4 linked regions of the Homo sapiens genome follow. The protein of the gene in region 4 interacts with the protein of the main gene of each other region in a biochemical or structural test. Each region holds a gene or a part of one and is shown on either strand. Other genes may lie near its edges. The genes, in order: CAPN2, CAPN1, CAPNS1 and KCTD7.

Region 1 (5,011 bases), on a different chromosome or scaffold from region 4:
AAGCAACTGTGACCATGAGAACAGAAACAGGCAAGAAAACACTTATGTGTCAGCAAAGGACACAGGCAGGGTGAAGGTGGACAGTTCAAAAACAAAAGAAACAGCAGAAGGTACTGGCTTTGCAAAATCAAACCAGTCTCACAGAAGAGCAGCCAAGGGACAAAAGCAATTATACCTCATTTAAATCACCACATTAGTTTCATAGCCTGTGAGCGCAGCTAAATGGAACAATCTAATGCTTAGCAATGAGTTTGTTTGTTCATGTAACTTCAGGTTTCAAGATGCCCTGTCAACTCCACCAAGTCATCGTTGCTCGGTTTGCAGATGACCAGCTCATCATCGATTTTGATAATTTTGTTCGGTGTTTGGTTCGGCTGGAAACGCTATTCAGTAAGTGGATATTTGGGGAATGACTCATTTCAGTTCTCTTGGTATTAAAGTGGCCTGCCTTTCACCTCGGTGAAATCATCTAAACTAGAGACATGTCTTCCAGGAGTTGAGAATGAAATTCCCTCTTTACTAATTTGAGGGTGAGGAAGAAAGCATGTATGGTGGTCAGTGAAGTCAGTTGCTGAACTGAAAAGAGGATAATGTGATCTGTTTCAGCTCACTCACTTGTGACACCCTCTTTTTCTCCCTCCACAGAGATATTTAAGCAGCTGGATCCCGAGAATACTGGAACAATAGAGCTCGACCTTATCTCTGTGAGTCAGCAGGCCCCGCCTTGCTTCTAAGGGGATGGGGGAGGCATGGGGCGGAAAGGGCTGTTACTTGAGTGATCTGCTTTTTCAAGTTTTGCTTTAAAGAGCTCTTGGTCTGTCGGGGCCAGGCCTGTAACCGGTTGTAAGATCCCACAATGCACTTTTACTTGCAGTTGTTTTCCAACCACCTATTCTCAAGTCCAAAATGCACGCCTGGCTCCCTCTTCTCATGAGCTTTGACTTGAGTGTAGCTCAAGGTTAAACTAAGGAGTGGCTGCAGGATCATGCTTAGAAAAATGAACTCCTGATTAGCATGCAAGGGAGAACATGTTTATATAAAGAAATCCTTCAGCTGAAATTCAAGTTGGGTTTTGGGAAGATCCATCATTCTTAGAGTGGATCTACTTAAAATACTTTAAGCAAATTAGTTTTCTCTACTCCCTCCCCGTTTAAGATAAAACCAATACTAGTAAATACGTTTGCCATTTATTATTGTTATTGCACTCATGTGTCTGGAACCCTAGCAATACACATCTCTGAAATGATCATCAATCTGAATTAAGTGGGTATGCTAATTTCACAAAAAGCAAAGCGTAAAATGTTCTCGTGTCATCCCAATGACAGGAAGTTCTCTCACTGAAAGAAAGAAGCCAGGTGGGGTATACTTCCATTATCACCTGGCTCCAGTCAGCATTTCCTCTATACTCAGGGAAGGCCACAGAGGGCCGGGCGAAGTGGCTGACACTGGGTGAGAATGGCAGTTGTCAGTCCTGTCCGTGTAACAGAGGAGTGAAGTGGTGAGGAGGGCAGGTCTAAGGCACTGGCAGCTCTTTTCCATGGATTTTGAACTCTGGAGGAAGGCAGCAACTAAATAACTGTCTCATTCTGCTATTATGCATTGTATTAGCAAAGTGAAAATATAGTCTATCTGGTTACAAATAACACTAACTTGCTTAAAACTTTACATATCCTAGGAAATATCTCTACCCCTAGATTGCAATGTAGAGTCAACCCCATCTCTAAAAAAATAAAAAATTAGGCTGGCCGCAGTGGTTCATGCCTGTAATCCCATCACTTTGGGAGGCCAAGGCAGGTGGATCACCTGAGGTCAGGAGCTCAAGACCAGCCTGGCCAACATGGTGAAACCGCGTCTCTACTGAAAATACAAAAATTAGGGCTGGGCGCGGTGGCTCACATCTATAATCCTAGCACTTTGGGAGGCCAAGGCGGGCGAATCACCTGAGGTTGGGAGTTCGAGACCAGCCTGAGTAACATGGAGAAACCCCATCTCTACTAAAAATACAAAATTAGCCAGGCGTGGTGACACATGCCTGTTAATCCCAGCTACTCGGGAGGCTGAAGCGAAAGGATTGCTTGAACCCGGGAGGCGGAGGTTGCGGCGAGCTGAGATTGCACCATTGTACTCCATCCAGCCTGGGCAACAAGAGCAAAACTGCATCTAAAAAAAAAATTAGCTGGGCGTGGTGGCAGGTGCCTGTAAATACGTTACTCTGGAGGCTGAGGCAGGAGAATCACATGAACCTAGGAGGTAGAGGTTGCAGTGAACTGAGATGGTGCCACTGCACTCCAGCCTAGGCAACAAGAGCAAAACCCTGTCTCAGAAAAAAATAAATAAAAAATAAAAAAATGAGCCAGGCATGGTGGTGCGTGCCTGTAGACCCAGCTACCCAGGAGGCTAAGGTGGGAGGAACACCTGAGCCCAGAAGTCAAGGCCGCAGTGAGCCATGATCTCCCCACTACATTCCATCTTGGGTGACAGAGCAAGGCCCTGTCTCAAAAAATTTAAAATGAAATAAATAGTAGAGTCAACACAACTGTGACACGAAACATGCCACATGTTAAGTTCTGGAAATCCTAGCCTGTCATTCTTGCTGGATATCCTATTCTACCCCAGCCACCCACCCCCACTCCAGGGTCCACCTGGCCTGCCTGCTCAGTCCACTCCCTCCGCATCTCCTCCGAGAAGCATCTTCTTACCCACTGGCTTTTCCTGCCACTCCTAAGCCTTACCTTTTGCAGGTTCCTGGAGATCCTCGCTTCTCGTAGTCTTTGCAAGGATGAGCCATGTTCAGAAGCTCTCCGTTCAGTCTGCAGGGATTTCAACCTTGGCTGCAGATTCCATCACATGGGGAGCTTTGCCAAAGTGCTGGTGTCCTGTCTGTATCCCAGACCAGTTGAATCAATCTGATTTAAAGTTTCCGTATCACTACAACTTAGAACCAATGCTGAACACCATTGGTTGCAGGGATATCCACATCCCAAACTAACTTCTGATGTGATACTCTGAGGCAGAGATGTGAAAATGCTAATTTCTGTTGTGTGAATTTCACTTTTCATGTGTGCAATCAACCCTGTAATATGATTCATGGCCACTTAATGCAAATCACACAGACTACTGACCTGTTAAAAGCTAGACTCTAGAAATCAGGTAAGAAAAATATGAGTTAGTGCACTGATATTGTAGCCCTCAATCAGCTTTTCCAGTACAAGTTTTTTGGAACAATCTACAGGTACTTAAATAGCCTTTAATTTTAAAAGTGGTCACTGAGCTGACTTTTTTTTTTCCTTCCTCACAGTGGCTCTGTTTCTCAGTACTTTGAAGTTATAACTAATCTGCCTGAAGACTTCTCATGATGGAAAATCAGCCAAGGACTAAGCTTCCATAGAAATACACTTTGTATCTGGACCTCAAAATTATGGGAACATTTACTTAAACGGATGATCATAGCTGAAAATAATGATACTGTCAATTTGAGATAGCAGAAGTTTCACACATCAAAGTAAAAGATTTGCATATCATTATACTAAATGCAAATGAGTCGCTTAACCCTTGACAAGGTCAAAGAAAGCTTTAAATCTGTAAATAGTATACACTTTTTACTTTTACACACTTTCCTGTTCATAGCAATATTAAATCAGGAAAAAAAAATGCAGGGAGGTATTTAACAGCTGAGCAAAAACATTGAGTCGCTCTCAAAGGACACGAGGCCCTTGGCAGGGAATATTTAAAGCAACTTCAAGTTTAAAATGCAGCTGTTGATTCTACCAAACAACAGTCCAAGATTACCATTTCCCATGAGCCAACTGGGAAACATGGTATATCATGAAGTAATCTTGTCAAGGCATCTGGAGAGTCCAGGAGAGAAGACTCACCTCTGTCGCTTGGGTTAAACAAGAGACAGGTTTTGTAGAATATTGATTGGTAATAGTAAATCGTTCTCCTTACAATCAAGTTCTTGACCCTATTCGGCCTTATACATCTGGTCTTACAAAGACCAAAGGGATCCTGCGCTTGATCAACTGAACCAGTATGCCAAAACCAGGCATCCAATTTGTAAACCAATTATGATAAAGGACAAAATAAGCTGTTTGCCACCTCAAAACTTTATGAACTTCACCACCACTAGTGTCTGTCCATGGAGTTAGAGGGGACATCACTTAGAAGTTCTTATAGAAAGGACACAAGTTTGTTTCCTGGCTTTACCTTGGGAAAATGCTAGCAACATTATAGAAATTTTGCCTTGTTGCCTTATCTTCTTCCAAATGTACTGTTAAATAAAAATAAAGGGTTACCCCATGCAATCACACCATGCCATGTTTTCCTTCCTGGAGGGCAGCCCCACAGGACGGTTTATGAGCACACAATTATAGCTTGTTTCTACTTTAACAAGGTATGCTGCCTCTGTAAATTCATGTATTCAAAGGAAAAGACACCTTGCCTATAATTAAAATGTGGAACTATAAAATTTTTTAAAATCCAATTCAGAAACTTTGATAATCTGACCATAACATAAGGGAAGCTCTAATTTCTACTGCTTGCTGATCTGCTGTTAGGCAGCACAGAGACGTATGTGCCTCTCAGGAAGTTCCCTGCTCGACCTTGGCCAGCTCCTCCTGGGGTAGGTACAAGCAAGGGAGCTGAGAAAACATGCAGATGAAGTCACTGGTCTGGTGCTTGTGGTTCTTGATGAATCATTTCCTCAAGATGACTTGAGATGATAGGCAAATGCCATCCTAATATTTCCTGAACAAGGTGAGACAATGGATTTCCCAAACTCGGCTCAAATGAGTTGAAGTTCTCTTGCTTGCTGAGTGGATTTTGAGGGCAAAGGGGAGGCTGGTGGCCATGAGAGTGCAGGAGTCCCAACCTCCTCGCATCGGTGATTTCTCTGTCCAGCTGCACAGGTGGCAGGAAAGATGTGGGAGATGTTTGGACTGACTCAAGATTGGAGGTGGGCAAGGGAAGGGTAGCTGAAGGATCAGGGGACAAGGGAATGGACAGTGGGGAC
Region 2 (6,610 bases), on a different chromosome or scaffold from region 4:
GTAGTCAGTGAGGGAGCTGGATTTGAGCCCTGGTCCTCAGAGCCCCTGTCTGACATGTACACATGAGGCTTTTCCTGCCTTGCCATCTACACCAAGTAAGTGCCAACTAGGGCGGTCCAGCAATGTCAGGAGCAGGGCATTAGACAGGCTGAGAGTTCTGTACCCTTGAGCAGTTGCTTAAGCTCCGAGCCTGTGTTTGTGTCTGTAAAATGGGTGTAACAGCAGAACAGCAAATGAGGTGCCGAGTACCCTGCAGTACCTGACCTGGGGAAAGCTCCCAGTGATAATAATGACAGTGTTATTGAAACACATGCCTAATCTGCAATCCGGTGCTCCTCTCCTCTACCCTCTGCAGTGAGTAGGGTTGTTACATTTTACAGATGAGGAAACTGAGGCAAAATGTCTTGTTAGGGTCACACAGGCTGTGAGTGAGCCATGCCCCAGCTCTCCAGCCCCTTGGCCAGGACAAGGAGCCTGGAGTCTGGGTCTGGGGGTGGCCCCTGAGGGTGGGCTGAGTGGGCAGCTGCAGCCCTGCTCCCTCCTCCCTCCCACCAGCTGGTGGGCCAGCCGGCCGTACACTTGAAGCGTGACTTCTTCCTGGCCAATGCGTCTCGGGCGCGCTCAGAGCAGTTCATCAACCTGCGAGAGGTCAGCACCCGCTTCCGCCTGCCACCCGGGGAGTATGTGGTGGTGCCCTCCACCTTCGAGCCCAACAAGGAGGGCGACTTCGTGCTGCGCTTCTTCTCAGAGAAGAGTGCTGGGACTGTGTGAGTCATGGACTGGCCCCTGCCACTCTCCCCTCTCCCAGCCTCCCCTCTCAGGCCCTCTGCTGTCCCCCTCTGACTGGCTCCTTTCCTCCCCACTCTCTGCAGGGAGCTGGATGACCAGATCCAGGCCAATCTCCCCGATGAGGTGCGTGGTCCCACCCCACCAGGCCCCGTCCTCCTCTCTTCCTCACCCCTGGGTGTGTGATGGGGACCCAGGTGTCCTGTCCCCTGAGTTCCTGCTAACAGGGAAGATCCCCTCCTGGTGGAAGCCATAGGAGTAGTGCTAATCCCTCATCCGCCCAGCACTTTACAGTTTGCAGAGGACCTGTGATACTAATGGCACAGGCCCTGAGCTCTCACCCGGTGGCGGGTTTGTGCTGAGCACTTCACCTGTGTTACCTCATTTCCTCCCCACATCAACCCTGTCCGGGTCTTGTTACCATACCTCCTCTGAATGGGAAATTCAGGTTCACAGAGGTTAGGGAACTTGCCTGAGGCCATACAGTAGGGATCCAAACTCTTGCCTTTTTTTTTTTTTTTTTTTTGAGAGAGTCTCACTCTGTCACCCAGGCTGGAGTGCAATGGCGTGATCTCGGCTCACTGCAACCTCCGTCTCCTGGGTTCAGGTGATTCTCCTGCCTCAGCCTCCTGAGTAGCTGGGATTACAGGCGCACGTTACCACACCTGGCTAATTTTTGTATTTTTAGTAGAGACGGGGTTTTGCCATTTTGGTCAGGCTGGTTTCAAACTCCTGACTTCAAGTGATCCACCCACCTCGGCCTCACAAAGTGCTAGGATTACAGGTGTGAGCCACCGCACCTGGCCCAAACTCTTGCCTTTTACTCACTGAGCTGAACAGCATCCCCTTCATTTAGGTCACATGAGTGCTGGATATGGGGCGGGGCAGGGCAGGGCAGGAACGAGATTCCCTTTTCAGATTAGAAAAGTGAGACTCAAGCCGGGCTCAGTGGCTCACGCCTGTAATCCTAGCACTTTGGGAGGTTGAGGCGGGCGGATAACCTGAGGTCGGGAGTTTGAGACCAGCCTGGCCAACATGGCAAAACCCCGTCTCTACTAAAAATACAAAAATTAGCCGGGCATGGTGGTGGGCACCTTTAATCCCAGCTACTCAGGAGGCTGAGGCAGGGAGAATGGCTTGAGCCCGGGAGGCGGAGGTTGCAGTGAGCTGAGATCACGCCACTGTACTCCAGCCTGGGTGACAGAGTGAAACTCCATCTCAAAAAGAAAAGAAAAGAAAAGTGAGGCTCAGAGAAGCGAAGTGACTTGTAGCAGATATGTGACCTCAGCCCTCCCTCCAGCTGCCTCCACACGGGCAGGGCCGGGGCCTCTCTTACCTGCTTTCTCCCCTTCTCGGTCCAGCAAGTGCTCTCAGAAGAGGAGATTGACGAGAACTTCAAGGCCCTCTTCAGGCAGCTGGCAGGGGAGGTAGGTTGGGGCATGGCAGGTTGGGAGGGGCCTGTGAGGGGCAGCCCTCTCCTGGGGCAGGTGCCACCTCCTCTCTCTCCCCAGGACATGGAGATCAGCGTGAAGGAGTTGCGGACAATCCTCAATAGGATCATCAGCAAACGTGAGTCCCCGCGGGGCTGTCCCACCACCCCACCATTTCTTCCACATCAGAATCCAGGCTCCTGCTCACACATTGAGCTGAACCTCATCCCTTGGTCTGCATGAGTCGGGGAATCCTCCAGTTTTTCTGAGCCCAGTTCCCTGCCATTTCCATCCCATACTCCTCCTCCTGACCTGCCATCCTGATAATCCCTGTGCTCGGGTGCTGTGCCTTTGTGGGATTAGCAGCGCAGCCTGGCCAGGCACAGTGGCTCACACCTGTAGTCCCAACACTCTGGGAGGCCGAGGCAGGAGTCGCTTCAGCCCAGGAGTTCAACACCAGCCTGGACAATATGGAGAGACCCTGTCTCTGCAAAAAAGTACAAAAATTAGCTGGGCGTGGTGGCATGCACCTATAGTCCCAGCTACTCAGGAGGCTGAGTTGGGAGGATGGCTTGAGACCAGGGAGGTTAAGGCTGCAGTGAGCTGTGATCACATCAGTGCACTCCAGCCTGGGCAACAGAGCAAGACCCTGTCTCAAAAAAAAAAGCAGGAGCAGCACCTTAGTGCCAAAGAAAAGTCTACCTTTCCTCCCAGAGCCTCCTGGGCCAGGCTGAGTGGCTTGGGGAACACCACGTGACTGGCTTCACTCCCCAGGGCAGACAACTGCTGGCCTCTCATCCCCTCCCCTCCCCTTTGCTGCCACTGACCTCCATCCACACGGTTTCCTTAAGCAGAGCTTTTCTCCTCCTCTTCTCTGCTAGTGAAGCACTGCTTACCCTCCTAGCCTACAGCAAGCCCTGCCCTGCCCCATCTTTCTACCCAATTTCTCGCTCTTCTGTTTCACACTCATTTCTTTTTACTTTGGACTAATTGTGGCTGTTGGGACTTTGGCTTGATTGCTAAAATACTTTACTTGTACTTCCTGATGATACAAACAATCCTGCCCACTTCCTCTGCCAGATATTGCACCCACTCGTCAGGATTTGTGCGTCCTTGACTCTGCCCCACCCAGTGCTCCCAGCAGGGGCAGGTGCAGGAAGCTCACTAGGTGGAGATGTTGGAATTGGTTTTTCTTGCAGACAAAGACCTGCGGACCAAGGGCTTCAGCCTAGAGTCGTGCCGCAGCATGGTGAACCTCATGGATGTATCCTTCCGTTTGCTTTTGTCTCCTGAGTGGGGTTTTGGGTGGAGGTATCGGTGCTGGGAGAACTGTCCCAGGACAGCACAGAGAACAGGACAGAGCCATGCGGAGTGTGGACACACAGTGCCCCATGCTCAGATGTCTCCCTGGACGTCTTCCTGTTGGTTGGGAGGGAGAAACTGAGGCACAGACCTGTGTCAAGTGAAAGGTGGAGCAAGACCTGGGTCCCCATTGACCCTGAGGCTGGTGCTATTTCTGACCCCTCCCCAGCCCACTCCACTGCAGCCCAGCTCAGAGAATAAGGCAAGCCCGGCTGTGGGCTGACTGTACATGGCTTTTGCTGCTTCTCCTCACCCAGCCCCAAGTCGACTTGCCGGCTCGGCGGCCATCTCCCCTTCTGCACAGTTGCCCACTCTCCCATGACTGGTCTAAGTGATGGAATTTCCTTCTTAACGGCCACCCAGCGTGATGGCAATGGGAAGCTGGGCCTGGTGGAGTTCAACATCCTGTGGAACCGCATCCGGAATTACCTGGTAGGTTGTCCCCACTCACCTCAGTCATGCAGGTGCGGGCCGGGCAGGTGGGAAGGGCCGGGTGACTCAGCCTGGCCCTCACCCTCTGCCGCCACCTCAGTCCATCTTCCGGAAGTTTGACCTGGACAAGTCGGGCAGCATGAGTGCCTACGAGATGCGGATGGCCATTGAGTCGGCAGGTGAGACTCCAAGGCTGACGGCACCTGTGGGGCCCAGGACAGGTAGCCCCACTGCTCCTATGCCCCAGGCCCTTGTCCCTGGGGTGCTAGTGGTGACATGGTAACAGCCATCTTGTCCTTTTCCCCACGGTTACTAGCACCCTGCCTAGCCCCAGCCCCCTCCTGGGGACCCAACCCCTCCCCCATCCTGTTGGGCAGGGGCTGCGCCTCACTGACCTTCACTCACTCTCCTGGACCAGGCTTCAAGCTCAACAAGAAGCTGTACGAGCTCATCATCACCCGCTACTCGGAGCCCGACCTGGCGGTCGACTTTGACAATTTCGTTTGCTGCCTGGTGCGGCTAGAGACCATGTTCCGTGAGTGTCCCCAACTGCCTCCCACCCTCCAGCTCCGTCCCAAACGCGTCCCCCAGGAGCTGGGGGGAATGACAGATGGGTGAATTAGCAGATACAGGCCAGTGCTGTGGGTGTGTGCCAGAGAGGCCTGGGTCTGGGTTTGGGGGGCCCTGGCTGAGTGCCAGGAGAGTCGGGGAGGGAGGGAGTTGACAGTGGCTTCTCAGGCAGCAGGAAGGGGTGAAGCTTCCCAGCTTCAAGGGGTGTCAGCTTGCGGTACTGTGGGGAGGTAGAGAGGGACCAGGCAGGAAGGGGGCCAGGCCTGGCCCTGCGTGAATATCCCACTGAGTTTTCAGCCCTGTATCACCTTTTCTTGAACACACAGGATTTTTCAAAACTCTGGACACAGATCTGGATGGAGTTGTGACCTTTGACTTGTTTAAGGTGGGAACCTCCCTGGGCCCATGGTTGGGGAAGAGTTCCAGGCGATCGAATTTTCTTATCTGGCCAGTGTTCCCTGTCCTTTCCTGGAAATGAGCCTGGGCCTCAGAGCCAACCCTGAAGCCCGGGCCACCTGAATCCTGAAAGGCTGGGGTGGGGGTGTCTGGATTCTGGGAAAGGAGCAGGAGGGGAGGTCCAGGCCCTTGGAGGCCCCTATGGGAGCAGCACTCTGGTTTCCCAGGGGTGGAGGAGGTAAGAAAGTAACCCCTCCATGAGGTTCCTGAGGTGGCTCCTGAGACGTGGAGTTGGGGGCTGGACCTGGGGTTTGGGTGGGGAAGAAGCCAGGGAGCCATTTCTGCGGCCCCAGCTGACCTGCCTGTTCTCCCGCAGTGGTTGCAGCTGACCATGTTTGCATGAGGCAGGGACTCGGTCCCCCTTGCCGTGCTCCCCTCCCTCCTCGTCTGCCAAGCCTCGCCTCCTACCACACCACACCAGGCCACCCCAGCTGCAAGTGCCTTCCTTGGAGCAGAGAGGCAGCCTCGTCCTCCTGTCCCCTCTCCTCCCAGCCACCATCGTTCATCTGCTCCGGGCAGAACTGTGTGGCCCCTGCCTGTGCCAGCCATGGGCTCGGGATGGACTCCCTGGGCCCCACCCATTGCCAAGCCAGGAAGGCAGCTTTCGCTTGTTCCTGCCTCGGGACAGCCCCGGGTTTCCCCAGCATCCTGATGTGTCCCCTCTCCCCACTTCAGAGGCCACCCACTCAGCACCACCGGCCTGGCCTTGCCTGCAGACTATAAACTATAACCACTAGCTCGACACAGTCTGCAGTCCAGGCGTGTGGAGCCGCCTCCCGGCTCGGGGAGGCCCCGGGGCTGGGAACGCCTGTGCCTTCCTGCGCCGAAGCCAACGCCCCCTCTGTCCTTCCCTGGCCCTGCTGCCGACCAGGAGCTGCCCAGCCTGTGGGCGGTCGGCCTTCCCTCCTTCGCTCCTTTTTTATATTAGTGATTTTAAAGGGGACTCTTCAGGGACTTGTGTACTGGTTATGGGGGTGCCAGAGGCACTAGGCTTGGGGTGGGGAGGTCCCGTGTTCCATATAGAGGAACCCCAAATAATAAAAGGCCCCACATCTGTCTGTGATGTGTTTCTCCCCAGCCTACTGCCTGGAGGGCACCTGCAGGCCCCGGCCCATGGGGGCAGCTCGTGGCCTCAGCTCACCCCTCCCCTCCAACCCCTCCATCTCCTTCCCCTTGACCTTGAAGCTTGAACCCCTACTGGAGTACTGGGTATCTGGGCAAGACCACCCCTGGCCCTGGGAGGTTGGGAAGGAGGGGCCCTAGCTGCAGGGACAGGGCCACACAGCTGAGGTCCCACATGGCTCTGCTGATCCTACATGCCCTCCCCGCCGCCCAGGAGGCCTGACCCCTACCTTTCTTGCACACTTCGGCCCGTTGAGGTGAGGCTCTGGCTGAAATTCAAACCTCTACTTAGCACACACCCGGCCCCCCAGAGAGCTCCCCCGAGCACAGAGCCGCCTTCAGGTCCCTCTGTGGGGAGCCCCTGTGACCCAGACACCTGCACTTACATAAGCCGCTCCAGGGCCTGCTGGGATCTGGGATTTTCTTACCAGAGATAAGAGTGGTTTGGGGGA
Region 3 (7,031 bases), on a different chromosome or scaffold from region 4:
CCACAGACCCTGATCTGAAGACTGATGGTTTTGGCATTGACACATGTCGCAGCATGGTGGCCGTGATGGATGTATCCTTGGGGGCAGTGTGGGAGAGGCCCTGGGTGGACAGAGAGTTTTTTGAGAGTATGTTTGGGAAGCCAACATGTAGCTTTCATATCCACAGATGTGGAAATGCATTCATCAGAACACAGTCACCTGCAGACATGTGGCGGTAAATCATAACAATGCCAGCTGTCACAGCTGGCACTTTAATTATATAAAGTGACCGAACCGTCATAACCACCCTGTTGGACAGGCACAATTATTATATTCCATTTTACAGAAGAGGAAACTGAGGCTCAGTTTCCTGAAAGAAGCAGTCATTTGTCTCAAGTTATAGATAAAGGTCAGGCATGGTGGCTCATGCCTGTAATCCCAACACTTTGGGAGGCTAAGGTGGGCAGATCACCTGAGGTCAGGAGTTTGAGACCAGCCTGGCCAACATGGTGAAACCCCATCTCTATTAAAAATACAAAAATTGGCCAGGCACGGTGGCTCACACCTGTAATCCCAGCACTTTGGGAGGCCGAGGCGGGCGGATCACGAGATCAGGAGATTGAGACCATCCTGGCTAACACAGTGAAACCCTGTCTCTACCAAAAAAAAAAAAAAAATTAGCCGGGCGTAGTGGCGGGCGCCTGTAGTCCCAGCTATTCGGGAGGCTGAAGCAGGAGAATGGCGTGAACCCGAGAGGAGGAGCTTGCAGTGAGCCGAGATCGCGCCACTGCACTCCAGCCTGGGCGACAGAGCCAGACTCTGTCTCAAAAAATAAAATAAAAATAAAAATAAAAATAGGCCGGGCGCCGTGGCTCACGCCTGTAATCCCAGCACTTTGGGAGGCCGAGGCGGGCGGATCACGAGGTCAGGAGATCGAGACCATCCTGGCTAACACGGTGAAACCCTGTCTCTACTAAAAATACAAAAAAATTAGCCGGGTGCAGTGGTGAGCGCCTGTAGTCCCAGCTACTCGGGAGGCTGAGGCAGGAGAATGGCGTGAACCTGGGAGGCGGAGCTTTGCAGTGAGCCGAGATCGCGCCACTGCACTCCAGCCTAGGCGACAGAGAGAGACTCCGTCTCAAAAAAAAAAAAAAAGAAAAAAAAAGAAAAATAACAATAACAAAAATTAGCTGGGCGTGGTGGTGCACGCCTGTAGTCCCAGCTACTCGGGAGTCCCAGCTACTCAAGCAGGAGAATTGCTTGAACCCGGGAGGCGGAGGTTGCAGTGAGCAGAGGTTTCGTCACTGCACTCCAGTCTGTGGACTCAGGTCTTTTGGGCTTGAGAACCCACGTTTATAACAGCCACATGCGCATATACACACACACACACCTAAGAGCACACCCACATACGTGAAGGTGTATGAGGCAGTGTGCACAGGGACACACGTGTTATCTGTACATGGGCCAGCCATTAGCTGATCTTGGATACATGCATATTTTTATTTATTTTTGTTTTAAAAAATATTTTATAGAGAAAAGCTTTCACTATATTGACCTGGCAAGTCTCAAACTCCAGACCTTAAGCAATCCTTCCGCCTTGGCCTCCCAAAGTGTTGGGATTACAAGCTTGAGACACTGCGCCTGGCCTCATGCACATTTAACACATAGGGCAAACAGACACATACATAATATACATGTCATGTAATCACAGACATATTGCATAGAGCAAAGCAATCCCAACTCTACCTCTTAACCAGGTTATTGAACCGCTCTGTGCCTCAGTTTCTCTCTCTGTAAAATGGGTGAGTGATAATGGTGATACCGAATCGGAACTACATCCAAAAGGTTTAGCACAGTGTATAGCGCATAGTATGTGGTCTGTACACATTAGCTCTTAACTATGATCTTGGGTAGAGTTTTCAGCTTTGAATGTTTTCTTCTCTGGAAATAGTCCTGGTAGAACTGGTGTCCCAAGGATTTAGTGAGAAAGTGATGTTCCTGAGTGGACATCAGGTGGATCCTGAGTTCAAGCGATCCACCTGCCTTGGCTTCCCAAAGTGCTGGGATTACAGGCATGAACCACCATGCCTGGTCACACACTTGTTTTTCACATATCCTAACATTTTTATGAAATTGAGTTACTGTCAAGAATTTTCTTTTCTTTCTCTTTTTTTTTTTTTTTTTTTGAGACAGAGTCTCACTCTGTTTCCCAGGCTGAAGTGCGGTGGTGCCATCTTGGCTCACTGCTAACTCCACCTCCTAGGTTCAAGCAGTTCTCCTCCCTCAGCCTCCTGAATAGCTGGGATTACAGGTGTGCGCTACTACAGCTGGCCAATTTTTGTATTTTTAGTAGAGACGGGATTTCATCATGTTGGCCAGGCTGGTCTCGAACTCCTGACCTCAAGTGAACCGCCTGCTTCGGCCTCCCAAAGTGCTGGATTGCAGGCGGGAGCCACCGTGCGTGGCCTATTAAGAATTTTCTGAATGAGCAATTAACAACTCTTCAGGCAAGGAATTTGTACTTTAGAGTAGTTGAATATAATTCCTCATGGTTATGTTTAAAGAGAATCCCTATTTAGAAATGTAAGTGACAATATGTATGGATAAAATGAAAAATAAAACCGCACACCAGGTGATATGACTAGGACCAAGCGGGAGCTGGAGTTTCAGCCCTGGCTGCCCTGCTTGCTGTATCACCATCGTGTCCACAGTGCATGTGATGCATGCATCTGGGTGTAGCTGTCACTCTTCTTAACACCCTCCCACCAGAGCGACACCACAGGCAAGCTGGGCTTTGAGGAATTCAAGTACTTGTGGAACAACATCAAAAGGTGGCAGGTGTGTAGAAACCTCTGAAATCCCTGGCACCCAGACCCCCAAGCCATGGAGACACTATGCCCCACAATGCTCACTTGGACCCAATGTCTCTGTCCTCACAGGCCATATACAAACAGTTCGACACTGACCGATCAGGGACCATTTGCAGTAGTGAACTCCCAGGTGCCTTTGAGGCAGCAGGTATGGCTGGCAGGGACATGCTGGGGCTGGGAGTGGGATGGGTGAGAAAACCTCTACTCAGCTGGTCTGGGCCTGACTCCTGGGCATGGGAGTGGGTTGGGCCATGTGGCCCCCGCACCTGAAGGACTACATCCATCTTAGGGTTCCACCTGAATGAGCATCTCTATAACATGATCATCCGACGCTACTCAGATGAAAGTGGGAACATGGATTTTGACAACTTCATCAGCTGCTTGGTCAGGCTGGACGCCATGTTCCGTGAGTGACAACCCAGCTGTCTTCCTGGGTGGGGATTCCTATGACCTCTATGGACCAAGGTCTCCTCTAAGCCTGACTTTGAGGTGGGCGATGCTAGGGGCACAGTGGTGATTGAATCAGTTCCAGTTTCTGCCCTCATGGAGCTCACAGTCTGGTGGAGGAGACACAAGTCCCCAGACAGTGACAGTTCAGACTGGTGATGGCTGGGAGAGGGGAAGCTCAGGGCAGAGTGATGGGTTGTGATGGGGGCAGCACAGGCCGAGGGTCTAGGGCTCTGGTGAGGGGAAGAGTGAGCAGAGCGTGCTCAGATTGTGCTTGGGGAAGCCTAGAGGGCAAATCCAATCCAGGAGGAACCTGATGCAGCCCAAGGGGTCAGGGAGGGCTCACTGGAGAGGGAACATTGAGACCTGAGGGGATGAGGAGAGAACTTAGTGAGAAGGTAGGGAATACTGTTGCAGGCTGAGGGAACAGCCTGTGCAAAGGCCTAGAAGGGAAAGAAGATGGGGCTTCTGATGCTTTTTGTTAGATTTCTTTCTTTCTATTTTTTTGAGACAGAGTCTGCTGCTCTTGTTGCCCAGGCTGGAGTGCAGTGGCATGATCATGGCTGACTGCAGCCTCAACTCCTAGGCTCCAGCAGTCCTCCTGCCTCAGCTTACCGAATACCTGGGAGTACAGGCACACACCGCCATGCCTGGCTAATTTTTAAAATTTTTTGTAGAGACAGGGTCTTGCTATGTTGCCCAGGCTGGTCTTGAACTCCTGGGCTCCAGCAATCCTCCTACCTCAGCCTCCCAAAGCTTTGGTGTTACAGGCATGAGCCATTGCATGTGGCCTTCTGAGTGTTAGTGTACTGAATGCTGAAGACATGGCTGGGAAGTGGGGATTACTGTCCTTATTTTGTGAAGGAGGAACTTAGGATTCAAGGAGGCAAATTTTCATGCTCATAGTCACCCAGCTAGGAAGTTGTAAAGCCAGAATTTGAACTTGGATCTATCTGAGATCTGAGCTAAGTAAGAGAAGGTAGGAGCAGTGAGCATGATTAGGTCATGCAGGATTGTGGGTGCCAAGTTTGGGGGTGCTCAAACTCTACCAGAGACATTGGGGAGCCATGGCAGGTTCTAGGCAGAGGGAGGACAGGGTCAGGTTTGGCTTTAGAAAGATCCCTTGGCCTCGGCTGGGCACGGTGGCTCACGCCTGTAATCCCAGCACTTTGGGAGGCCGAGGAGGGCGGATCACGAGGTCAGGAGTTCGAGACCATCCTGGCTAACACAGTGAAACCCCATCTCTACTAAAAATACAAAAAATTAGCCAGGTGTGGTGGCGGGCGCCTGTAGTCCCAGCTACTTGGGAGGCTGAGGCGGGAGAATGGCATGAACCCAGGAGGCGGAGCTTGCAGTGAGCTGAGATCTGCCACTGCACTCCAGCCTGGGTGACAGATCGAGACTCCGTCTTAAAAAAAAAAAATCCCTTGGCCTCCAGGCCGGGTGCAGTGGCTTATGCCTGTAATCCCAGCACTCTGGGAGGCTGAGGTGGGCGTAAAACCTGAGGTCAGGAGTTCAAGACCAGCCTGGCCAACATGGCGAAACCCCGCATCTACTAACGATACAAAAGTTAGCCAGGCGTGGGGGCGTGTCTGTAGTCCCAGCTACTCAGGAGGTTTAGGGAGGGAGAATTGCTTGAACCCAGGAAGCGGAGGTTGCAGTGAGCAGAGGTCATGCCATTGCACTCCAGCCTCCAACCTGGGTGACAAGAGCGAGATTCCATCTCAAAAAAAAAAAAAGAAAAAAAGATCCCTTGGCCTCCAGAGAGCCCACAATGCATGAAAAGTAACAGAGGAAAAGAAGCAGGTATGTGAGATAGCAGGGAGGTGAAGGGAGTGGACAGACAAGGTTGATGCCACAAGTCACATAAGAGGGGCCAGGAAATAGCCACTGGATCTACCAGCAAGAAGGCTGATAGTCGGGAGGATCATTTGAGTCCAGGAGTTTGAGACCAGCCTGGGCAATGTAGTAGGACTCCATCTCTACAAAAAAAAAAAAATATATGTATATAGACATAGCCGGGCATGGTGGCACATGCCTGTGGTCTCAGTTGCTCGGGAGGCTGAGGTAGGAGAATCACTTGAGCCCGGGAGGGTGAGGCTGCAGTGAGCTATGATCTTGCCACTGGACTCCAGCCTGGGCCACAGAGACACCGTCTAAAAAAAAAAAAAAAAGGGCTGGGCATGGTGGCTCACTCCTGTAATCCCAGCACTTTGGGAGGCCGAGGTGGGCGGATCACCTGATGTCAGGAGTTTGAGACCAGCCTGGCCAACATAGTGAAACCCCGTCTCTACTAAAAATACAAAAAAATTAGCCAGGCGTGGTGGTGCACGCCTGTAGTCCCAGCTACTCAGGAGGCTGAGGCAGGAGAATCACTTGAACCTGGGAGGCAAAGGTTGCAGTGAGCCAAGATCGTGCCACTGCACTCCAGCCTGGGCAACAGAGTGGGACTCTGTCTCAAAAAAAAAAAGAAAGAAAGGCAGCCAGGGTGTGCAGGACGCTGTGGGTATGGACACCTGAGGGTGGTGGTAACTGAGCGGAGATAGTGTAGTCATCATGTCTAGATTCCCTGTGGGTGGGGAACATGGAGTCAAGTTTCAGGGCAGGCGTGGGGACCTACCTGTAAGACTCTAGGGGCAGGAAGTAGAGTGTGCAGAGCCTCCCTCTAGTAGCCTGTTAGGCTTAGAACTGGAGAGGATGGAGCATAGATGTCAGTAGGAGGCTGGGGCTGGGCAGAGGTGATATCAGTACACAGAGGCCATTATTGAGGAGGGTAACAGATTGGATTCCAATCCTGATTTCTTCACTTTCTTGCTATGTGACCTGGGGCATGGCCCCTCCCTTCCTGCCTCATTTCTTTTTTTCCTGTTTTTAATTTTTAGTTTTTTTAAAAAGCAGAGATGAGGTCTCTGTTGCCCAGGTTGGTCTCGAACTCCTGGGCGGCTCAAGTGATCCTCCCATCTTGGCCTTCCAAAGTGTTGGGATTATAGGTGTGAGCCACCACGCCCAGCCTGTGCCTCATTTTAAAATGACACTTATCTCACAGAGTTGGATTAAATCAGCCAATACCTGGAAAGCACTTTACCCCATGCTTGGCACACAGTAAATACTCAGTGAAGTGCCAGCTGCTATGATTGTCATCCCATGTATTTGTGTAATGTTATTATGCCAAAAACCAGTCTCCTTCCTTCCCTGCCGCCAAACCTCTGCATCTCCTCCTCCAGGTGCCTTCAAATCTCTTGACAAAGATGGCACTGGACAAATCCAGGTGAACATCCAGGAGGTAAGGACCCCCATATTGGGGTATGGGTGCCTGGGAGGACCCCACCCCTCAGCCCTTCATACCAGCTCTGAGCTGCAGTCCCCTTCCTCCTATTTTGCCAGCCGTCCCTGGGTGAGGGCAAAGGGGCTGGTGCTCTTGGGGTTCCCTGTCCTCACTCTCCACCCTCCTCTCCCCAGTGGCTGCAGCTGACTATGTATTCCTGAACTGGAGCCCCAGACCCGCCCCCTCACTGCCTTGCTATAGGAGTCACCTGGAGCCTCGGTCTCTCCCAGGGCCGATCCTGTCTGCAGTCACATCTTTGTGGGGCCTGCTGACCCACAAGCTTTTGTTCTCTCAGTACTTGTTACCCAGCTTCTCAACATCCAGGGCCCAATTTGCCCTGCCTGGAGTTCCCCCTGGCTCTAGGACACTCTAACAAGCTCTGTCCACGGGTCTCCCCATTCCCACCAGGC
Region 4 (7,031 bases):
AGGAGTAGATGCCTGGAAGTATTCAACACACAACTACTGAGCTCTGCTGTGGGCAGCCCATGATTGGTGACCAAGATGCTTTCCCTGTCTTTGGGAAGCTTGGGGTCTAGTGGAGTGAATTGACAGAGGGAAATAATTGGCGATGTATCGTGCTAGGTGCTATTATAGAGGAGAATATGACACACGGTGAAGGCACAGTCGAAGAATGTGTCATTAACTCTGTCCTAGGGGCAGGTGAGGGACAGTAGACAGAAATGCTCACAGATGAGGGGAACTTGAATAGAAATTTCTAGAATGAGTAGATGCCACTAAACTGTATGGTGTGTTGGTGTGAATTAGAAAAAGGGCACATAGCAGGCCGGGCGTGGTGGCTCACGCCGGTAATCCCAGCACTTGGGGAGGCCAAGGCGGGCGGATCATGAGGTCAGGAGATCGAGACAATCCTGGCTAACACGGTGAAACCCTATCTCTACTAAAAATACAAAAAATTAGCCAGTCGTGGTGGCAGGCACCTGTAGTCCCAGCTACTCGGGAGGCTGAGGCAGGAGAATGGTGTGAACCCGAGAGGCGGAGGTTGCAGTGAGCCGAGATCGCGCCACTGAACTCCAGCCTGGGTGACACAGGCTGGGACTCCGTCTCAAAAAAAAAAAAAAAAAGAAAAAGGGCACATAGCAGATGACTCTCATCCAGGTGCTTTTATGCAGTGAACAACCTATAACACTGTATGGGTCCATTTAACTTGCCATATAGACAGAAGAAGGAGACTGGTAAGAGCATTTTGGGCAAAGAAGACAATGTGAGCAAGAGCACTAAGATAGTAAATTCAGGAAGTGAAAGGACACTGAAGGCTTGAGCTCTAGAGCAGCGATAATGGAGTTGAGGTGGAGAGACCTGATTTAAAAGCTATCAGGGGGCCAGGCACAGTGGCTCATGCCTGTAATCCCAGCACTTTGGGAGGCCGAGGCAGGTGGATCATGAGGTCAGGAGATCGAGACCATCCTGGCTAACGCAGTGAAACCCCATCTCTACTAAAAAAATATATATATATATACAAAAAATTAGCCGGGTGTGGTGGAGGGCGCCTGTAGTCCCAGCTACTCCGGGAGGCTGAGGCAGGAGAATGGCGTGAACCCGGGAGGCGGAGCTTGCAGTGAGCCAACATCACGCCACTGCACTCCAGCCTGGGAGATGAGTGAAACTCCATCTCAAAAAAAAAAGAGCTATGAGGGTTAGAATGGGTAGGACTTGGCAGATGATGAGGGTGGGGCAGAGGGAGGAGAGAGAAGAAAGTGTTCAGATGGACCCGTGGGCTTGAGTGACTGAATGAATGGTGTGGCACCAATCAGACCCCAGGGATTGAAGATGGAGCAGCCCCAGCTCTCATTCCCCGTTGCCTGCCTGAGAGCCCTGGTGATTTCTTTCCAGTTTCCTGAGGTTGTTCCCCTTAACATCGGAGGGGCTCACTTCACTACACGCCTGTCCACACTGCGGTGCTACGAAGACACCATGTTGGCAGCCATGTTCAGTGGGCGGCACTACATCCCCACGGACTCCGAGGGCCGGTACTTCATCGACCGAGATGGCACACACTTTGGGTATGTCTCTCCCTCTACAATCAACTTTGTAGTCCTAGCAGGTGATTAGCGTAGGCTTGAGTATGGGACCTTGATATCTTCCATAGTACCTAGAAGAGGAGATAGCATATTGATGAAATTTAATAAATGGGTTTATTGAAAGAGATCAATTTTTTTTTTTTTTTTTGCCAAAGGAGACAAAGACAGCCAGAGAAATTCGAAATAACACACTGGCTGGATGAAATTGCTTCAATCATAGACAATTAAACAATTTTTATTTTCAGCTCTGCGCGGTGCTCATGCCTGTAATCCCAGCACTTTGGGAGGCTGAGGCAGGTAGATCACTTGAGGCCAGGAGTTCCAGACCAGCTCATTACAGCATGGTGAAACCCCATCTCTACTAAAAATACAAAAATTAGCTGGGTGTGGTGGCTCATACCTGCAATCCCAGCTACTCAGGAAGCTGAGGTCGAAGAATCGCTTGAACCCAGGAGGCAGAGGTTGCAGTGACCCGAGATCACGCCTCTGCGCTCCAGCCTGGGCGACACGAGATTCCATCTCAAAAAACAAAACAAAATTTCATTTTTATTTATTTATTATTTATTTATTTATCTCATTATACACCCACACACACAGATGTACACATACATGCACACATATATATATATGTATATATGGGTGTGTGTATACATATATATATATATATATATATATGTATATATATGAGCTCTGATGCACTGAGGCTTCCACTGGTCTTGATGTGTGTGATTCTATCTATCTATCTATCTATCTATCTATCTATCTATAAAAATAAAGATAGGATCTTGCTGTGTTGCCCAGACTGGTCTCAAGCTCCTGGCCTTAGGCAGTCCTCCCACCTTGGCCTCCTAAAATGCTGGTATTACAGTATTTATTTAAGTTTTAGGTGTTGTTTTTTTTTCGGGGGCTGTTTTTTTGGAGATAGGGTCTTGCTATGTTGCCCAGGGTGGAATGTAGTGGTTGTTCACCAGTGCCATCATAGCTCACTGCATCCTTAAACTCCTGGCTCAAGCAGTCTTCTCCCTTCAGCCTCCTGAATAGCTGAGACTACAGGTGTGCGCCACTGCACCTGGCTGTCCTATGCAATATGAGACCAGGAAGTTGTCATCTGTGTGGAGAGGAATAAGTGTAATCCCACATAGGGGGATAGTCTAAAACAACATGGAGAGTACCTTTAGACCTGGATTTTGGGGCTCAGCGTTGCCATGGGAAGGAGGCATGGTGTGTAGCAGTGGTTACCAGACTTCTTTCAGTAGTTTAAAGGAATAAAAAGAGATGGAAGACTGATACAGTGTTGTTCTTTAATTTTGCCAAGGAAAGTCTTTAAAAAAAAAAAAACCCTCTGTTGTTCTTGTCACTTAACACTAAAATGTGGAAAAACACAATGTCAACAACAGCAAAATAGCAGCCAGGCGTGGTGGTACTTGCCTGTAGTCACAGCTACTTGTGAGGCCGAGGTGGGAGGATTGGTTGAGCTCAGGAGTTGGAGTCTGCAGTGAGCCATGATCCTACCACTGTGCTCCAGCCAGGGCAACAGAGTGAGACTGTCTTTTTTTTTTTTTTTTTTTTGAGTCAGCGTCTTGCTCTGTTGCCCAAGCTGAGTGCAGTGATGCAAGCACAGCTCACTACAGCCTTGACCTCCCAGGTGCAAGCAATTTTGCTGCCTCAGTTTCCCAAGTAGCTGGGACTAGAGGTGCACACCACCACGCCTGGCTAATTTTTGATGTTTTTTAGAGATGAGGTTTCACTATGTTGGCCAGGATGTTCTCGAACACCTGGACTCAAGTGATCCTCCTGCCTCAGACTGCCAAAGTGCTGGGATTACAGGCCCAGCCTGTAGTTTGTGTCCGGCCCGGCCGAGACTCTGTGTCTTAAAAAAGAAAACAAAACCTTTCCCAAGAAAGGACTTCTGACAGTCTTACATGTAAACAATTTAAAGACTTTATGTCTCAGGGGTTCCATGTTTGTGAAATGAGAAATAATTATAGCTGCTGCACAGGCTTGTCAAAGAGGATTATATAAAGAGCCTTGGTGTGACCCCTAGCCATGTCCTTTTCAGAGTACGTGGCTGGAACTCTTAGCTCCTTCAGTCTGACATTGGAGATGACTAGAGACCTTGAACCAAGTGCCCAGGAGGCAGAAACTCTCCAACCACTACATCTCTGTGCTGGCCTCCAAGAAGGATTGCCCACATTGTGGGAAAGATCATTTTTATTCTCAGAAAGGAGCCCCTGGTCAAATAACTTGCTTGGAAGCATCTGGGTTTCCCCAGTGGGCTATCAGCTGCCTCCAATGCTGAGAAAACAAAGTGTCACATCGCTCTGCAGAACTATAAAAAGATGTTTGTTTGCGGGCTGTTTGGGGAAGGAAAGTGCCGGCCCCAGCTAGCAGCTCCCACAGCACCCTTAGCTGGGCCTTGCCCCAGGGTTTTGTTTTTCAGAGCTCACCAAGGTTTGCTGAAGATCTAGAAGGGATTTTGGGGAGGGGTTCTGGGTTTGACTTGAGGTGGATGTGCCCATGCTCAGGTGGCCACAGCTAGAGAGTGACAGCGCCAGGCAAGGGCATGGCAGAAAGCAGGAGATGGCGACATTCTTACTTTGGCTGATGAGCTCCTGTGACCTATGATTCATCAGCAGCAGATGAAGTTGTTGAATGACTCAGATAAAATAGGCGGTTCAGGGCATTTCGTAGGGTGCATTTCTTACTATACAGCTTATGTATCCCTAGCGTCCACCGTGAAGGCTGCTTGGGCCTCAGTCTGGGGTCGTTCCCCATTGTCATCAGCTTGCTGCACTCTGGTCTAAATGTTTCTGCTGAAGCTGGACCATGGTAGATGTGGGTGTAGAATCAGCCATGGCTGGATCTGAGCCTCTGGCAGCGGTGGCTACTTGAGCAAGCATGTTCCTGAACCTGTCTGGGCCCCACTTGAGCCTCATTTATGACATAGAGATAAGATAGCACACACCCCCAATGTCATTGAGAGGATTACATGGGATAACCCATGAATAGTGGCTGGCATGGAGTAATACTTAGCGAGTGTTAGCTGGTGTTGTATTAGGTCATAGACTAAGCTGTTATTGAGGTAGCAGCATTATCTTGGGGTTTACTCACTGTCTTCCGCACGTACGGGTGATGTATCTGATTACTCTGAGCACTAAATAATCTAAAAAGCTGGTGGCTTGCACCTATGGTCCCAGTTATTCGGGAGGCTGAGGCAAGAGGACTGCTTGAGCCCAGGAGTTAGAGGCTGCAGTGAGCTATGATTGCACCACTGCCCTCCAGCCTGGGTGACAGAACAAGATCCTATCTCTTAAAAAAGAAGAAAAAAAATCTGAAAAGTGAATTAGAAGGACTGAATTTTTATTTTAAGAAAATGCAATATGTGATTTTATTCAGCCCTGAAACCAGTTTGTTCAGACATTAGAGTTAGGCATTTTACCTGCTCTGCATAGCTACAGAATAATACTAGTGGCAAGGATGGGGAACACCTAGAACTCTTCTGCATTGCTGTTGGGAATGTAAAATGCTGCAACCACTTTGTTAACCACGTGCTTACCCTATGACTGAATGACTCTACTGCTAATACTTAAAAGAAATTTGTGCTTGTGTCCACTAAAGGTTTCTTTTGTTTGTTTGTTTTTGTGATGGAGTCTCACACTGTCACCCAGACTGGAGTGCAGTGGCGTGATCTTAGCTCACTGCAACCTCCACTTCCCAGGTTGAAGCAGTTCCCCTGCCTCAGCCTCCAGAGTAGCTGGGATTACAGACACCCACCACCATACCTGGCTAATTTTTGTATTTTTAGTAGAGATGGAGTTTCACCGTTTTGGCCAGGCTGGTCTTAAACTCCTGAGCTCAGATGATCCACCCACCTCGGCCTCCCAAAGTGCTGGGATCACACGTGTGAGCCACCGTGCCTGGCCTAAAGGTCTTATATAGGAATGTTCATCCCAGCTTTACTCATAATAGCCAAAAACTGGAAACAACCCAAATGTCCATCAACAAGACAACAGGGTAAATAAATTACACCATATTCATGCAAGGGTATACTTACATAATGAATAATAACTAATAAAAACAAAAAAACAAACTACTGGTTTGTTTTTATTATTTATTTGGTGGATACATTTCAAAAACATTATGTTAAAGGAAAGAAGCCAGGTATGAAAGAGAACATACTATATAATTCTGTTTATATATATATTTCAAGAAAAGGCAAAACTCATCTTTACTGATGGAAGGAGAAGTTAGAGTGGTTGCTTCCGTAGGGATTAACTGGGAAGTGGCATGAGGAACCTTAAGGAATGGAAATGTTTCATCTTGATCTAGGTGATGGTTGGATGGGTATATTCATACTTAAAAAAACAACTGAACTGTACAGTTAATATTTGTACATTTATTGAATATTTCACCTCAATTCTAAAACTATATATATATAAAGGGCTAGGTGTCATATCTTTCCATTATACTTACATATACCTAATAATACCTAATATTATACCTAATAATAGTAATTATAGTTGCTTACTGATAACAACAACTAATAACACTTATTGAGGCCCTACTCTGTGCCAGGGATTTTCTAATCACTTAATTCCCTAACACATTATGAGGTTTTATTGTTTTCTCCAATTTTACAGACAGGGAAACTGAGACATGGAGTAGTTAAGTTCATTTACCCAGTGTAACACAGCTGGCAGTCTGGTTTTAGATTTTGTCCAATGCACACTGTGTGGCACTGCCCAGGAGCATAAGCTCCTTGTCACCGACCCTCTTTCCTTCCTGCTTAGAGATGTGCTGAATTTCCTGCGCTCAGGGGACCTCCCACCCAGGGAGCGTGTTCGAGCTGTGTACAAAGAGGCCCAGTACTATGCCATCGGGCCCCTCCTGGAGCAGCTGGAGAACATGCAGCCACTGAAGGGCGAGAAGGTGCGCCAAGCGTTTCTGGGACTCATGCCCTATTACAAAGGTGAGGGTCAGCTGCCCAGGATGGTGGGTATGTGGGAGGAGGTCTGCAAGGCATCTGTGAGTGTTTAGGTCTCCATCAGAACACCGGGGGCAGCATTCATCCAGATTACTCAAGATGCGATGGAGTGTCATCCCTTCCCAGTCACGCTGGGGAGATTCAGGTTAAGGTGGGCCTACCTGGCCTATGACAGTTAGCAAATTGTATTTCAGAAGGACAGCCCTCGTCCCATTGGCTTCCCTTTGCTGTGGAGAACCGTGACCCTTGTTTAAGTTTGTGCCCTTCATTGGCCCCCTGAGTCCCTTCCCCGGGAAATCTGTCTTTCCCCTCCTGCATCCTGCCATCTTCAGGACTGTTTCTCTGTGCATCTCTGCTGCCCTGTCCTGCCTCTTCACCCTAGTGATAGGTGTTGTGTTCATCCTTATAGACCACTTGGAGCGGATTGTGGAGAT

The links.
Region 1: of the proteins of KCTD7 (region 4) and CAPN2, one has a biochemical effect on the other in vitro, tested with the Homo sapiens proteins (one study listed by BioGRID).
Region 2: of the proteins of KCTD7 (region 4) and CAPN1, one has a biochemical effect on the other in vitro, tested with the Homo sapiens proteins (one study listed by BioGRID).
Region 3: of the proteins of KCTD7 (region 4) and CAPNS1, one has a biochemical effect on the other in vitro, tested with the Homo sapiens proteins (one study listed by BioGRID).

The regions. Positions count from the first base shown.
Region 1 is NC_000001.11:223,771,536-223,776,546, forward strand, and holds the end of CAPN2 (calpain-2 catalytic subunit), read left to right. Parts: intron 1-273; coding exon 274-390; intron 391-645; coding exon 646-704; intron 705-1,175; exon of another isoform or gene 1,176-1,551; intron 1,552-2,732; exon of another isoform or gene 2,733-3,298; coding exon 3,299-3,322; 3' UTR 3,323-4,483; downstream 4,484-5,011. UniProt on the Homo sapiens protein: Calcium-regulated non-lysosomal thiol-protease which catalyzes limited proteolysis of substrates involved in cytoskeletal remodeling and signal transduction. Proteolytically cleaves MYOC at 'Arg-226'.
Region 2 is NC_000011.10:65,205,908-65,212,517, forward strand, and holds the end of CAPN1 (calpain-1 catalytic subunit), read left to right. Parts: intron 1-555; coding exon 556-767; intron 768-872; coding exon 873-912; intron 913-2,147; coding exon 2,148-2,213; intron 2,214-2,297; coding exon 2,298-2,355; intron 2,356-3,415; coding exon 3,416-3,480; intron 3,481-3,941; coding exon 3,942-4,010; intron 4,011-4,110; coding exon 4,111-4,189; intron 4,190-4,428; coding exon 4,429-4,545; intron 4,546-4,906; coding exon 4,907-4,965; intron 4,966-5,352; coding exon 5,353-5,379; 3' UTR 5,380-6,099; downstream 6,100-6,610. UniProt on the Homo sapiens protein: Calcium-regulated non-lysosomal thiol-protease which catalyzes limited proteolysis of substrates involved in cytoskeletal remodeling and signal transduction. Proteolytically cleaves CTBP1 at 'Asn-375', 'Gly-387' and 'His-409'.
Region 3 is NC_000019.10:36,143,058-36,150,088, forward strand, and holds part of CAPNS1 (calpain small subunit 1), read left to right. Parts: intron 1-6; coding exon 7-71; intron 72-2,748; coding exon 2,749-2,817; intron 2,818-2,918; coding exon 2,919-2,997; intron 2,998-3,138; coding exon 3,139-3,255; intron 3,256-6,520; coding exon 6,521-6,579; coding exon of another isoform or gene 6,580-6,755; coding exon 6,756-6,782; 3' UTR 6,783-7,031. UniProt on the Homo sapiens protein: Regulatory subunit of the calcium-regulated non-lysosomal thiol-protease which catalyzes limited proteolysis of substrates involved in cytoskeletal remodeling and signal transduction. Essential for embryonic development.
Region 4 is NC_000007.14:66,631,850-66,638,880, forward strand, and holds part of KCTD7 (BTB/POZ domain-containing protein KCTD7), read left to right. Parts: intron 1-1,425; coding exon 1,426-1,595; intron 1,596-6,403; coding exon 6,404-6,582; intron 6,583-7,006; coding exon 7,007-7,031. UniProt on the Homo sapiens protein: May be involved in the control of excitability of cortical neurons.